Homo sapiens: one gene and its partners. The protein of the gene in region 2 purifies or fractionates together with the protein of the main gene of each other region. This does not show direct contact. Each region holds a gene or a part of one and is shown on either strand. Other genes may lie near its edges.

Region 1 (3,500 bases), 9.8 Mb from region 2:
CACCATGTAATCGAGAGAAAATTCAGAAGCTAACAAAAGGTGCCGTTTCCCTGAGCAGCATTTCAGTGAAGGTTGGCTCAGTCACAAAAAATAGTTTCAATTTTCAGCAGAAAACAAATTACCTTCAAGGTCTCTCGCTCTTTCTGAGTCTTTTGGTTATACCAAGGTTCATCATTGTATGGGGTACTTTGCCAAACATACTTTAGAGTAGTGCATACTGCAGCTTTGGTCAGTAAGATAAATAAATATACAATCAGGAAAGCATTAATAGATCTGAAAAATAAGATAGCATGGATTTTAAAACCAAAGACATCAGTCAGATATGAATTAAACTACTGAGTCATCTAAAGCTTTTTCTGTGTACGACGCGTAACTACAGCACAAGCCTTTGTGTATTAACCTCAGTTATCATAGCTGCAGCATTACTTTCAAGTGGCAAAATGGAAAAGCTGGCCATGAACTGTTTATTGACCACCAATGCTCCCCCAAGTGCAATGGCTGACTAGCTGAACACACCTTATTAAGGTTCCTGTAAAGTGACAGGAGAGGTACACACATGCACACATACACACACCATTACTTACTCAACCCTTATAGAAAGAGTATCTTGTCTCCATTTCCCTGAATCCTAAATGTTTGGGGTAGAGGGCACGGTAGCAATGTGAAATCCTCAAGCTCGGTGTAGGTTCTTTCAGTTTAAAAGTGGAGCTATGGAAAGGGTGCCAGTGATATACTGGTTATCCATGCCAAATACAGGGTGAGGTCTATAGCAGTGGCAACTGGCTTGAGGATCTACGAGGCACTGCTTCAATAGGTGCCAGGAGACTATTATCTATATTATAGAACCAACTTGCATATAGCAACTAAAGGACTCCAAACCATTAACTCCACTAGCAAAAAGGAATGAATTTACAGTTCAAGTAAACTCTGCCCTTTAATAGCTATGTGAGCTTAGGTAAGTCACATACCATCTCCAAGACCATTTCCTCATCTGTAAAGTGGAGAGGTTAACATGAATTACTTCACAGTGTTCTTCAGAGGACTAAACCAAATCAGACATACAAATCATTGAGCACAGTTTCTGGTACATAAACAAGTGCTTAAAATTGTAGTTGCTATTATAATTGATGTTGTTTTTTGTTATGCTTGTTACTTGGAATTACCAAGAAAGTAACTATTTTAATCAATAATGACTAAATAAATTGTGGCGCATACTAACTTTTCAACAGCAGAACGTTTCTGAGATTTCCCTTGGTAGTTCAAAGCCATTTTGGTTTCCATTCCAGTGTAAACAGCAACTCCTAAGAAATTACAGAATATAATAAAAACTAAGAACTTGTCAACCAACTCCTCACCCAGCTGGCTCTATGAATTTTTAAGTCTATAAAAGTGGGAAATCTAGGCCCTCTTCCACTCACCAGTTGTATATCATTTATAGGATAATTTTAATTATATATAGTATTTGTCATATTTCGTCTTAGTTTACCACGTTATAAATTCCCAACACCTAAATGTAGGTTTAAATTAAATGGCAAACCTGCCATGTTTACTTTTTAATATGCACTATTTATTCACAGCCTTTACAAAGCATATTTTTTGATAGGTGTATCTTAAAAATTGTTCACCATATATCTTCTCGGTATTTTTTAGCGTAGCTCCTTTCAGCAAGAGATTTTCAGGTCCCAAAGACCTAAATAAAAAATGAACACAGCTTATCCAAACAAGCCAATAGCATCAACAACTCTGGGGACAGATTTTGCCCTGACACACACCTATCTCCAAGGGGTTCAGAATGTTATCTGTCTACTTATACCATATGCTTACTCCCCAGGACAAGCTGAAAGGTCCTTCACTCTGAAGTTACTTGAGGGTACAGCACAGATGGAAGCACAGTACGGGAGTAGCCAGCAACACACATAGGCAAAAAAAATACATGGGGGGGGATAAAAGGATTATGAATCATGGATAGCAAGACGAGAACAGAACAGAGCAGCAGATCGCAAGACACAAAAGCAGACAGCCATCAATAAAAGACAGGGAATGCAAACGTCAAGGTGGGAAAAATATACTGACATATTTGGAGAGAATAAACCCTCCTTTTGGGGGATCACTGGGGACCCTGTATTTCTTTAACTTTTTGAGTGTGGCTGTAAAGGCCAAGTGGAAAAGTTGCGGTAATTAATATGATGATAGAAGAGGAAAGAAAGCATCCCTTTTTGTATGAACTGCTTGATAAATTGTATGAAGGCTGATACATACAATTCGTATACATAAAACAATTCGTTTTAATGAAGCCTTTCATTTTACGTAAGTCCAGGTAGTTCTTCCAGCATTTTACCCACTGCTTACTTTCTCAATTACTCTCCCACTGTTCTCCAGTTATAATTCCAATGTTGTCAGCCACTTCACAACCGAGGATAATAAATAACATGGCTAGAACAGGTTTGGGAATATAATCCAAAATGTCTGGAGCTCTGCTATTTTGGAAACCATAAGCATTACTTCTAACAGCCCCCTCCCCACAACACAGAGACCCTATCACCACAACTCTACCAATCACAAGGTTAGTTGCTTATTCACCTTTATATTCCTTTTTTTTTTTTTTTTTTTTTTTTTGAGATGGAGTCTTGCTCTTGTTGCCCAGGGTACAGTGCAATGGCTCAATCTTGGCTCACTGCGACCTTCGCCTCCCGGGTTCAAGAGATTCTCCTGCCTCAGCCTCCTGAGTAGTTGGGATTACAGATGTGTGCCACCACGCCCAGCTAAATTTGTATTTTTAATAGAGATTGGGTTTCACCCCGTTGGCCAGGCTGGCTTCAAACTCCTGACCTCAGGTGATCCACCCACCTCAGCCTCCCAAAGTGCTGGGATTACAGGCGTGAGCTACCGCACCCGGCCTATATTCCTTTCTATAATAGAAAGGTATTTGGCTATTTTAGTTGATTTAACAGAAAAATAGACCCCCCCCCCCAACCAAAGGACAAATTAAAGAAACAGCAAACTTACCTGGCAACAGCCTCAAGACTATTACTGTAGATATTGATTCGCCCAACAAATCTGTAAAAAGAACAAAATTGCAAATGTGTTTTCTACATCCAGGTGAAATCCATGTACCAGAAATATGAGAATGAATGAAAATACAAATAATAAAACAGAGATAGATAAAACTGTGAATGAACTACAAAAGCCTATTATATTTCTGGGGGAAAAAAAGTTATGTTGAATTGATAAGGTGTATAACATTTTCATATAATTTTTAAATAACATGATGGGATTATAGGAGCAGAAACAAAGGTTCTCAATTGATTTTCAAGTTCTGTTTAACATCATGCATGCACACAACACCTCTCTCTTTTATAAGTTTATATAAATAACGTAACTTCTATCTTGGATCATGTGAAGAAAGGTTTCTGGTGCTAAAATACAATTTTCAAAACCGCTAGTTCAGTAGTTCTTACACTTGAGTGTGCATCAGAATCACTGGAGCGCTAATTAAACCA
Region 2 (5,495 bases):
TGTCTGAAAACTGTTCTTTTGTAGACTGTATCAAGCTTCTTATTTAGGCGGGAAGGTAAATTATATTCCTATTATTAAGTCAAGGCTGGAAATAGAGGTCCTCAAGAGTATAATTTCTAATTATTTCAAGGACATCCTCTGTAGCAATTCCCTTTTATATGAGACGTGAGCATGTGTGTATGTGTAATTTATTCATTCATGGAAAGTATAATACATACACTAAAATGTTCATGCCATATGAATATGACAGATGGCTGCCTTTTTAGAAATAGAATCAGTTAGTGATAGAACTTGACCATTTTCAGAGCATGTCAGCCTTTTCCAGTCTCTGTGTCTTGGTATAGCTAGTTCCTTCTGCCTGGAATACTTCCTCATCTCACTTGCTTTCCTGCCTGGCAGCTTCCTACTTGCCCTCTGGAACCAGCTCTAGGGTCACCACATCTCTGCTTCTGAGTGCCTCCTCAGACACAGTCTGTATTTCCTCTTCCAAGCTCTCATCACAAACATTGTGCTGTATTATATGTTTCTGTGTGGTCTTCCTTCTATGAGGAAGCCTTGGAAAGCAGGAGACTTATTTTAGTCTTCTTTATGTTTCTTTTATTCCCAACACATTATGTCTGCCCCATAGACCTTTTCAATAAATGATTATTGAGTTAGTGACTCCTTTTACATGCTGACAAATGTGGCTCTTATTACTCCCCATTTCAGTATCACATATTTGTAAAAGTGAATCCTTCTTAATCGTTTTACTTTTCTCCTAGTAAATTCCTCATCTATGCCTGTCTGCTGCTGTTCTCTGTGCTGCTGGCCCTTCGTTTGGATGGCATCATACAGTGGAGTTACTGGGCTGTCTTTGCTCCAATATGGCTGTGGAAGTTAATGGTCATTGTTGGAGCCTCAGTTGGAACTGGAGTCTGGGCACGAAATCCTCAATATCGGTAATACTGCTTTATACAACCCATTGGTCTCTAGCATGAGGGAGCAATATCTTGACTTTTCTCACTTTTGATGAAGTAAGGACCATTTTATTTTCTACCTATCTGGGGTCTTAGAACTATAGTATAAGCTAACAGATCTCTTCTGTGTTTTTGAAAATTTAGTCTTTGGTATGTATTTTCTTACAAAAGCAGTGCCATTTGGGGGTAAGTTGCCAGCCAGCTCACAGATGCCTATATAATCCAAAATGCACCCAAAATACAGAACTGGTATGCCATACTAGACTAAGCAGCATGAAACCACCCTGTTTTTAGGAAAAGACACTCATATTATGTTTGGTCATGAAAGATCTTTCTCCAATACAGTTTTGGAACTGGGGCTCCCCTTGTCCCACCCTCCTAGTCCCAGAGCTTTAGGACTATTAGCAGTGTAGGGGAGGTGGCTTGACCAGGAGACCATGAGTCCCTGAGACAGCAGCTGGGGAATGAGGAAAGTCAAAGATTGGATGCCGAGAAGGAAAGCAGAGCCTTTGGGGGCAGGGGAGAGGGGTACCCTTTACCGTTTCCAACTCTTGCCCTCCCTGCTCTTGGATGCCTCCGCTGGCCCAAATTCCTGGGAGTTGGCTCACGCCAGCATGCAACCTGCTTGTTGCTGGGACCTGCGAGAGTCTTTCCCTTCTCTGCCACAGAGACTGTAACTACATAAAGGGAAAAAGGGGGACTTAAGACTGGGAGGCTATTATGAACCTCCACTGGGAAAATGAGGAGTACAGGAATTCCCAGAAGGCAGCTGCTCATGTGGGAAAAGTGTAAAGTTGAAACTACCGCACCTTTTTTTTTTTTTTTTTTTTTTTTTTTTTTGAGACAGAGTTTCGCTCTTGTTGCCCAGGCTGGAGTGCAATGGTGTGATCTCGGCCCACTGCAGCCTCCACATCCCGGGTTCAAGTGATTCTCCTGCCTCGGCCTCCTGAGTAGCTGGGATTACAGGCACCTGCCACCATGCCCAGCTAATTTTTTGTATTTTTAGTAGAGATAGGGTTTCACCATGCCAGGCTAGTTTTGAACTCCTGACATCAGGTGATCCACCCGCCTTGGCCTCCTGAAGTGCTGGGATTACAGGTGTGAGCCACCACGTCCGGCCACTACATCAACTTTTTAAATTTTTGTTTACTAAATATGAAAATGATTCAGATTGTGTAAATTACATATCACATACATGTCTAAGAACTGTAAAACAGTTACACAGAGAGCCTTGGCAGGTGAGGGACATTCATGTATAGCTGTTTCAGAGTTCTTAGATTTTTTTTGAAAGATTGATGACCTGTGTGGCTGTATGTGTTTTATTTTTTTATGAGATATTTTCAGATATCTAATATTAATTGCTTCTCAAAGAATGCAAAGTTAAATAAACATTTAGGTTCTACTAATTGATATTTAGAATATATTCAAACTTCTCTTTGTTGGTCTTATTTAAGATGTTTTGAGCAAGGAAAGGAATTGTGTATGTGGGGTTGAATGTAAGGAATGTACAGGCGTGGTCATTCTCATGTTAACATTAACCAGTGGAACATGGTTGGGTCCTACAGGAATAACCTCTGATAGCATTTTCTCTATGATCTAACTTCCGGTGTATTTGTCACCCACAATACATGTATATCATAAATGTTCATCTGTATTTTGAATAAACATTGTAGGCCTTTCAGATGCATTATAGAGCCTTTTCCTGATTAGCGGCCTTACCATTGCTCAATTGTAGATCTGTTAAGGTTATTGTGCATGATACTTAGCTAATTAAACTGATTTTGTTTGAGAACAGTTTTAACTCTTGTTCTTCTTTCTCTTTCATGTGCAGGTGTTAATTTATCTTAATGGAATAGAAAGGAAAATGAAAATCATTTATACGTTTTATTTGCATTTAAAAATAGCACCTAACAATAGTTACTACTATCTTGAAATATAACTGGCACTTGTTCATAGAACTAGAGTTATTTTTATAATATTGTGTGAAGGGTGGTTTACATGGTTTCTTGAAAAATGAGGATCATGAGACTTAAGGGGTATTTGCCTGGTTTTAGCAGCAGAAGCAAATCAGCTTGAATAATCTTGGAAGTAACTCTTGTTGTTGAATTTAAAGATGTGAACAGAAGTGTTTATGTACATTGTCAGGGAAATAAGAACTGGCTATTACTTTTGAGAATATCCTTATACGGTTAAAACATTAAATTCTGGTTTGGTTGTAATGTTCATTTTGTATTATGTAGTAGTTCTTCGATGTTTCAGAGATTGCCTACCAAAGCTTAGGTTTAAGTTAGCTTTCTACCTGATTTCCCTTTGCTTTTGTCAAATTTTCAAGTAAAATTCAAAGTATAAATATAAGTTGGTATTTGCCCTGAACTGCTTGCTTATAGTGGAGATTCTGAACTGAGGGTGTTTTCTTCTTCTCTCCCTTTTTTAGAGCAGAAGGAGAAACGTGTGTGGAGTTTAAAGCCATGTTGATTGCAGTGGGCATCCACTTGCTCTTGTTGATGTTTGAAGTTCTGGTCTGTGACAGAATCGAGAGAGGAAGCCATTTCTGGCTCCTGGTCTTCATGCCGCTGTTCTTTGTTTCCCCGGTGTCTGTTGCAGCTTGCGTTTGGGGCTTTCGACATGACAGGTCACTAGAGGTGAGATTTCATATATTTAAGAATGTTTTCCACTTTGGGAGGTCAAGGCAGGTGGATCACTTGAGGTCAGGAGTTTGAGACCAGCCTGGCCAACATGGTGAAACCCCATCTCTACTAATAATACAAAAATTAGCCGGGTGTGGTGGCATGCGCCAGTAATCCCAGCTTCTCCGGAGGCTGAGGCGGGAGAATCTCTTGAACCCAGGAGGCGGAGGTTGCAGTGAGCCAAGATTGAACCATTGCACTCCAGCCTGGGTGACAGAATGAAACTCCGTCTTAAAAAAAAAAAAAAAGAATGTTTTCAAAAGTAAAATATTTTGCTCAGTTATTCAGATGTCAATTTCTTACCCTTTGTTAGGAAGAGCTTGATCATTACCAACTCTACATCATGAGACAACAAGGCAACAAAAGATGATGGAAATAACAATTTTTCTTTCTTCACTTAGAACACTAGCTTTTCACCCAGGACATCAGCCTTCTCCCAGCTTCACATCCTGTATCAATCAGACAGAAACAGAACTGATAGGTTAGATACAGATATATGTATAAAGAGAGTTAAGGAACTGGCTCACATTACTGTGGGGCTGGCAAGTCTGAAATCTCCAGGGCAGGTGAACAGGCTGGAGACCTAGGAGGAGTTGACACTGCAGTCCTGGCACAGAATTTTTTCCTCTCCAGGAAACCACAGTTTTTGCTTTTAAGGCCTTCACCTGATTGCATGAGGCCCACCCATGCTATGGAGGGTAGTCTCCTTTATTCAAAGTCAGTACCTTCACTGCAACAGCAAGCTTAGTGTTTGATTAAATAACTGGGTACTATAGCCCAGCCAAGTTGACACTCAAAACTGACCATCTCCCCACCTCAGACCCCATGATTTAGCACCTCCCCTGCTGTCTGGTTAGCTTATCCTGATGTGCCCCTGTGTTTGTTTATTCATTCAATAAACATTTATCAAGTATTTACTAGATGCCAAGCCCTTTTTCCCTAAGCATAGAGGATATGCAGATGAATAAAATACCAGGACTAGTAATAATAGTAATGAAAGTAATTGCAGATAACGTTTATTGAGCACTTACTGTGTGCCAGGCATTGTGCGAGGCACATTACATGTGGTAGTTTTCTTACTAACTAACTCTGTGAGGTAGGTCCAGAGAAGATAAGTCATTTGTTCATGGCCACATGTGAAGGGGCAGGACCAGGATTCCGTTTGAGTCAGCCCGACTCTAAAGCCCGGGCACATAACTACATAACTGCATAGAAGCTGAGGGCCCAAAGCTGAATACTGATGGGTTGAGGGGAGAACTAGAGGCTGTAGATGCCTGGTTTTGAGCCGTGTGGATGAAGAGTGAAGGGAGAAGACTGCAGTTGGCTTAGGAAGTAAACATAGCAGCTGTAGGGTGGGTCAGGCATATAAGCCTAGACCCCAGGTATGGGCGTGAGGGGAAGGTATGTAGACAGAGGGACGGTGATGGAGCAAGGCCCTGTGGGACTCAGGGAGAATGGGACCTAGAGCACCAGGAAGGGTTTGGCCTTGAACAAGGGGAGCTATTCCCTGATTTTCATGCTGGTGGAAAGGCCACAGCATGGGTATAGTGGTAGGTAGGAGTGAGCCGTGGAGGGAGAGTATCTGATGGTCCACTTTCACCCTCCCTACAATTCCCAGTTTATATCAGGGACTTGAGCATCCATGGATTTTGGTATCCACAGGGGGTCCTGGAACCAATCCCCCACAGATACTGAGGGACAACTATACAAGGACTAGGACTGCATTGGGCCTGAATTACAGAAAGTAAGTCTTTCATATATTCACACTCTAGGCATTCCTGCCCTTGGAAGAAACAACATACCAGGAGCTGAGCTCCCTCCTCCTGTGATGCAAGAACAGTACCTATGTTGG
Region 3 (4,287 bases), on a different chromosome or scaffold from region 2:
GGCTGCAGTGAGCCGAGATCACACCACTGCACTCCAGCCTGGGTGGGACAGAGTGAGACCCTGTCTCAGAAAAAGTGCCTGCAAAATACTGAACACGGAGCTGGAAACAAAGTGCTTAATAGGAGGGTTAGCTGTTACTGGTTACACGGAAGCCCGTGTCCAGGGGGCTTACCTGGAGGTCCAAGCGGGAGTCAGGTGGATAAAGGAGAAAGAGGTGTTATGTGGAATAAAGGAGGGACCTGGGAGCGGGGCTGAACTTTCAGAGAGGGGTCCTCTGGCTGGTTTCATAAAACTGGGCCTGAGCCTAGAGAGGGGGATGTGGAAGAAACAGCAGGGTCAGAAGCAGCCCCATTTTGGGTCCTGAGGCCAGAGAGGCTTTCACAGACCTCTAGGTGGCCAACCCAAACACCCGGGAGACCCAAGGAGGAGCAGATGGGTGGCTGGGACTGCTGTCCAGTTGTGGGGTAGGGATATGTCAGAAACTGGTATGGGCCTGCACATTCATTCTATTCATCCATGAATATTTATTGAGTTTGTACAATGTGCCAGGTTCTGTGCCAGTTTAACAGGTTATCACTGTTAACTGGCAGTGATTTAACAGGTTATCATCTGGAATGCATGTCCCCATGCAGAAGTGACTACACCAACTTATTAGACTTGTGGGGTGGATTTTCATTTTCCATTTCCTTTCTTAGATCAGTGAGCCCGTCAGGTCCCTGCTGAGGAAGGAGCTGACGCAGGGACGTCTGAAACTCATTTGTTACCCTGAGCATATAACAAATAGAACACAGTCACAGTATTAAAAAAACAGCAGGAATTAATTAGGTGCAGGCTACGACACGTATGCACCAAGGACATGTTTCTTTCATCAGAGTCTGCAGCTAGTTACTTGGAAAAAGCCAGTTATGATTGTAAAAATTTTATTCTCAATAACAATTCCACTAAAATTATACAAAGTACATTCAATACTTAAGAATGGCAAAGGTGGGGAGAGGAGGAGAGGAAGCCAGTTTGGCCTGGAAGCATCAACAGTTGACTCCAACAAAGGAAGCCCAGCTGGGCTGGAGGAAGTTGGGGGTGGAGGTCCGGTTGTAAAAAATAAAAAAGGGGATCGGTAAAAAAAGGCCACCCACAAGGAAGCAGAGTGAGCGTGCATGTTCCTGGGGGAGGGCAGGAGGCTCAGCTGACATGCTGCTGCTGGGCACTGGAGCTCAGGCGGGCTCCGAGTTGGTGGGGGGCAGGTTTTTATGCTTGAAATACTGCACAACTTGTTGGGGCAGCTCCGCCAGCACAGCTTTGGCCAAGGTCTCTTTTGCTGCCTGCAGGGTGGAGGAGGGTGGGGTGGGGAAGAGAGAGAATAAGGATTAATGACCGGAAGTTGTGAGCGGCACTATGCCCAGAGGGCTGCTACAGCAGGTGTCCATTGAGGACAAAATTAGGGCTGCGGGCCAGGGCTGTCTGCAAGTGGCATCCCTCATCTCAGCCCAGGCCAGGCCTGAAATTCCCCCTGATCGCAGTGCCTTCCTTTAGGTTAGGTGTAAGTGTTACCTGGAGCACTTGAGATGCTTGGGAGTAACGGGTTAGGATGACTCCGTCTGCGGGAAGCACCTATGTGTCCGGCAAACATCTCCTGAGCACCTTCTTGGCGGGAATAAATGGGCCTGACAGTATGGTTCACTAGTGAACAGCCAGCCACAGGCCAGGCACATGGAGGTACTCGGTCACCGACCTGTGCATGAAGGGGTGACCGATGCCCAGGGTTTGTCCTTAGGAAGCGAATGCTCCAGAGGAAGGAGTAGAACCATCGCAGGCAACCCCAGAGGATGCTGGGAAGAGAGGTGAGGGCCACTGGGTGCAAACCAGCATGGGCAGTTCTTGCTGAGGCTGGGTTAAGCCCCCAGCCAGCAGTATGGGGGTGGCATTACAGTACAGCGGTACAGTGGAGAGACTGCTCCCCTATGGGACTCCTCATGGACCCTGCTGCTAGGGCAGTGATCAGGAGGCCAACCCCGGCCTCCTTGTGGGCAGATCTGGGATCACCTGCAAATAAAGCCAGAGCCACTTCCAGGAACAAGGCTGGGGACACCATTCTCCCAGGCAGAGGGCTTTAGGGAGAGGAGGTCAACCTAAGATGACTGGGAGGCCTTGTTTTCCGTCTACAAAATGAGGGGGCTTGCTGGGGCGTGATGATCAGGAAAACCCCTCTCTCCTCCTGCACTTTACACCACATGGATAGCCCCAGCCTCTCATCAGACCCCACTAGAGGGCAGGTCCTCCAGGAAGCCCTGCCCCAGAGCCTCAGGCTAGATGCCCACGGCTCCATGTTCCATCAGTTTGTGGAAGCAAGTGCTCACACTATCACAATGGCCACCACCGGGGCAAGGCCTGGCACGGCGCCTGGCACATGGCAGGCCCTCAGAAGAGCATAGTCAATGGAGTGGAGAAGTCTAGGATTGGGCCAGACAACCCCAAGACTCTCAAGCTTGATTATGAGCTATGGTGGCTGGGATCCTGTAACCGCCCCCTCCCAGCCCAGGCCCACACTCACGTTGCGGAACTCTCGAAAGGGAACGAACTGCACAATATCGCGGGCTGCCTCCTCCCCCGTGTGGGAGCGCAGCATGCGGCTGTCCCCATCCAGGAACTCCATGGCAGCGAAGTCCGCATTGCCCACGCCCACGATGATGATGGACATGGGCAGCTTGGAAGCCTGCACCACGGCATGCCGTGTCTCCTCCATGTCACTGATGACCCCGTCCGTGATGATGAGGAGGATGAAGTACTGCTGCAGGGAGGGGGCCAACGGGGCACTCAGCAAGGTCGAGGCTCTGGCACCCCTTCTCCCTCCCTCCTTCATCCCAAACCCTCCGAGTCCTGGAGGAAGGCAGTGCATCTTACCCAGCTGCAGCCAAGTCCCAGACAACTCACTATGCGTCCTGCTCTCAGCACCCCACCCCTGCAGGCCTCTCATGCTCTAAACTCTGACCTGGTCACAGCAGGAAGTACAAACTGCTCTCCCCTCCTGCCCTGTGTGTTATCTTAGACTCCCCCTTGGGGCCTCTGAGAGCCCTGGACTCTGGGCCTGGCCTTGCCAGTTGCTATACTGTGGGACTCTAGGCAACTGACTTGACTCGTAGTGCCTCAGTTTCTTCATCTGCAAAGTGGGAGTTGTTGCAGATAATGTGCCTGACGTGGCAGTGGCCCAGTCAGCTGCATTCCCGACAGGCCCACGGCTGGCGCAGGGGGACTCATCTGGCTGATGGGCTGCTCTGGGACCGGTCTCCCCCTCTCTGCTGCACCTGGGCATGGGCACCTGTGACCCCCTCCATTCCCTACTCAACACGACAATCTGAGACACCTTGCGGGAGCTAAAGCAGGTCGTCTGGGCCAGGGCTTCCAGGAGTGTGGGACTCTGCTGACAAATAAGTGGATTTGAGTCACATCCCAAACACAGCACTGAGCACCATCAAGTCATCAAGTCACCCCGGAAGAGGACTGGTTTGCAGTGGCCTTTCAATTCTATGAACTGCACCCAGGAGCAAGTCTTGGTTTGGTACTACTGTGTCTTTCACGTCTCTCTAACATTTGCTAAGCTTCCTTATCAACGGAAAGGGAAGGCAGGAAGCCCAGAGCTTGAGGAGACAATAGTCTCCAGCTAGGCTTTAATACCATTGTACAGCTTGTTGTGTTTATTTTTGTTACTCTCTATTTATGGCAAGTGATACTGCTTTTTTTCATTTACAATGGGATATAGAGTTTCTTTATAAATTAAATTTTAAAAATTGAATAATTAGTGTGGGAGATATATAAAATACAAACTGTGAAGTGGGGCCGGGGTGTGCCTGAGTGAAGTGCAGGAAGGCTCATTGGACCATCTGAGGGTGAGGGCCCAGGATTCCAAATTGGCCAAGAACTCTTTTTTCTTTTTTTTTTAGACTGAGTCTCGCTCCGTCGCCCACACTGGCACAACCTGGGCTCACTGCAACCTCCACCTCCTGGGTTCAAGTGATTCTCCTGCCTCAACCTCCCAAGTAGCTGGGATTACAGGCACCCACCACCATGCCCGACTAATTTTTGTATTTTCAGTAGAGTTGGGGTTTCACCACGTTGGCCAGGCTGGTCTCAAACTCCTGACCTCAGGTGATCCACCCGCCTTGGCTTCCCAAAGTGCTGGGATTACAGACGTGAGCCACCGCGCCCAGCCAAGAACTTATTTTCAGCTCAGCTCTGTCCTTAGTACCCGCTGACCCCTTTAGGGGAAGCTCAGTTTCCCCCATCCGTAACATC
Region 4 (2,769 bases), on a different chromosome or scaffold from region 2:
TATGTGTAAAACCTGTACTACATCAGTTGAAACTCAGACTCACAGTTTAGAGCAGTAGTTCTCAATTGGGGGTGATTTTGCCCCCCAGGGGACATTTGGCCATGTCTGGAGACTTTTTTGCTTGTCACAACTGCAGATGGATGGCATCTAGAGGATACAAGCCAGAGATGCTGCTAAGCAAACTACACAGCACAAGACAGCCCTCAACACCATAGAATTATGTGGCCCAAAATGTCAGTAGTGCTCAGGTTGAGAAGCCCTGCTTTAGAGGATAGTATTCTCTGGTTATCTTCATTAACCAGATATTAACCAGATATTGGTTATCTTCATTAACCAATAATGATTGTTCATTAACAATCAGCACTGAGAATTGGTTCCAAGCTAACAGAGATCAAAAGGACATGAAGAAGGTATAGGTCTTGACTATAATAAATTCAAATGATTTTTTTTTTAGTTTTTTTAGATAACATTTATGCTATTGCTGTTTCTCTAGTGTGTTTTTCACAATTACCATTTTAATTGGTATTTCCACCTTATGTGAAATCACTAAACTGTTCTTTGGCTCAAACTGTCTTCCTCTTGTTTTTCAGGAACAATACCAGTTCATCTATAAAGCAATGCTTAGCTTGGTCAGCACTAAAGAAAATGGAAATGGTCCCATGACAGTAGACAAAAATGGTGCTGTTCTTATTGCAGATGAATCAGACCCTGCTGAGAGCATGGAGTCCCTAGTGTGACTGGAATCCTGAAAGGGCACTTAATTTGTAAACTTCTGAAGACTGAGAACTTTTTTGAGGCCTTTTTTGCCAGACTCTAGGTTATACAATAACCCAGTTACTTTTTTACACTGATAAAAGTTTTGATATTTATTTTTTGCCATTTTATGTCTTAATGGTATCCTACTGAGCATTTGCACCTCTGTTCATTTCACACAGTGAAACGCAATTTTACCTAGTTTGCACTATATGATCAGTGTTACTGCCTATAATCTTATACAACAGCAAACCCTGATGTGACATTCCATGACGACATACATGCTACTTTTTTTTAGTTCAATACAGTGAAGGTCTTTGTTATGACAGTGAATATTGCTTTTATTATTATTATTGCTGAAGTGGTTGCATTCTACTAGCAGGCAATGCTGTACTTTTCTTCAGTCCTCCTCTCCTTTTTATTTTAGGCACTGTTCAATACTGTATGCCTTCTGTATTTTAATGGAGTGGATAGCATTGTTTTCTTTTACAGACTAGCAGGCTACTGGGACCTAAAAAGGTCTGTTAATGTCATGGCCTTGAAACAGTTCCATTTATGCTGGTTAAGAGATCCCTTAAGAAGTTAGAAGGCTTAAGAACTGCTTCATGTGAACATCCCTTATTAGTTACAAAGTTATATTCACAGTTTTTTAAAAATGTGTCAAAATAAAGGATAACTCTGTATTACAGCTTTCACAGTAGCTATGTGGACAATGTGTTATTTCCATTTTGACTCTCTAAAATAGCTACATCCTAAAATCAGGGCTATCTTTAACAATAGCAAGATAGCAATATTATATACAACTCAGTTATGAGACCCTTTAGTTATTCTCCATTAATGCTTCTTAGTTTGTAATACCATACCTCACAGTAGGTAGAAGAATGAAAACTTCTGCAGGTGTGTAATTTTGAAACTAGTCCTCTAAAAATTCCCTATTACTCCTATAGCAATCTAATAAAAACTACCTACATAGTTACTGTTTTCTTTCCTTCTTTGCCAAATGTTTTATAATAAATCTCTTAATTACATACATTTTTCTACTTAAGATTAAATTGGAAATACTGTCTTAGCAAAAGTCTTGGGACTATCTAAACTCCCACACATAGATAAATCTGATTTGGAGAGAGAAATTTAAAATATTTAATTAAAGGTGATACCCACATTTTCAAGTTTTTAAAAGAGGGAGATGGCTTTGTATGCTTTTGTGTAGTTTAGAACAGATACACATTAGTAAAAGATACCAATAATCATTAGAGCTCAAGGAAGTTATTAGGTGCAGCCTCTGGAGCCATACTCACGCTGCAGTGCATAATGGGAAAATTAGGAGCATTAATAAGAAATTTCAGTAGTGTTTGTAAGGAAAATAAGCTACTTACTGAGATCTGTTTCTTCTATTGCATGTTTGCTTTTGAGGGACAGCTTCTGTCAAAAGTGAAATCATCACCAGAACTGGGCCTGTTAGGAAGAATAGGGTTTTATTTACTTTTTATGTCAATTAACTTCAACAAAAAGGCCACGCTGGCTGCTGTCATGCCATCTGGGTATGCATTAAACATTAATGATGATCAGCACTGAGGTTCTATTTATCTTGATTTGGCTTTCATAAAGTTTGTCAGAATGGTGCTGGAGGACCAGAAGTGCTAAGGAGAAAGAAGCTATGGGCCAAGTTAAAGAATTTGAATGCAAAGGCCAGGTCAATGGAGTTTTCATAAACTACATAATTTACCAGGGTTTATCTCATCTTCTCAATACATAGATTTAACAACATGGAATACTCTGCTTTTCAAGAGCTGCGTAAGCTAGTCCTGAGATAAGATGTTCAAGAGAGCATGCTAAGTTGCATGTGCTAGATGAGAGACACCTTTACAGCCCCTCCGCTCCAACCAGAGGTGACACAGGAAGCTCTGTAAAGTTCAAGTAAAGCTTGAACACAGGAACACTACAACTGCCAGATGCTGAGGAGAATCAGGAAAGCAATGAGCTAGACTCTTTTTTTAGTCAATTAAGTGGGTTGTT

The links. The genes of interacting proteins can lie anywhere in the genome.
Region 1: the proteins of TMEM185A (region 2) and ATP11C purify together in Homo sapiens (affinity purification with mass spectrometry; 3 studies listed by BioGRID and IntAct, with this or other methods). This does not show direct contact.
Region 3: the proteins of TMEM185A (region 2) and CPNE2 purify together in Homo sapiens (affinity purification with mass spectrometry; 3 studies listed by BioGRID and IntAct, with this or other methods). This does not show direct contact.
Region 4: the proteins of TMEM185A (region 2) and PTPRG purify together in Homo sapiens (affinity purification with mass spectrometry; 3 studies listed by BioGRID and IntAct, with this or other methods). This does not show direct contact.

Annotation. Positions count from the first base shown.
Region 1 is NC_000023.11:139,797,054-139,800,553, forward strand, and holds part of ATP11C (phospholipid-transporting ATPase IG), read right to left. Parts: intron 3,058-3,500; coding exon 3,007-3,057; intron 1,691-3,006; coding exon 1,626-1,690; intron 1,302-1,625; coding exon 1,220-1,301; intron 274-1,219; coding exon 123-273; intron 1-122. UniProt on the Homo sapiens protein: Catalytic component of a P4-ATPase flippase complex which catalyzes the hydrolysis of ATP coupled to the transport of aminophospholipids, phosphatidylserines (PS) and phosphatidylethanolamines (PE), from the outer to the inner leaflet of the plasma membrane.
Region 2 is NC_000023.11:149,606,730-149,612,224, reverse strand, and holds part of TMEM185A (transmembrane protein 185A), read left to right. Parts: intron 1-761; coding exon 762-938; intron 939-3,390; coding exon 3,391-3,598; intron 3,599-5,495.
Region 3 is NC_000016.10:57,144,583-57,148,869, reverse strand, and holds the end of CPNE2 (copine-2), read right to left. Parts: intron 2,786-4,287; coding exon 2,549-2,785; intron 1,320-2,548; coding exon 1,212-1,319; 3' UTR 501-1,211; downstream 1-500.
Region 4 is NC_000003.12:62,292,571-62,295,339, forward strand, and holds part of PTPRG (receptor-type tyrosine-protein phosphatase gamma isoform 1 precursor), read left to right. Parts: intron 1-43; exon of another isoform or gene 44-147; intron 148-590; coding exon 591-737; 3' UTR 738-2,769.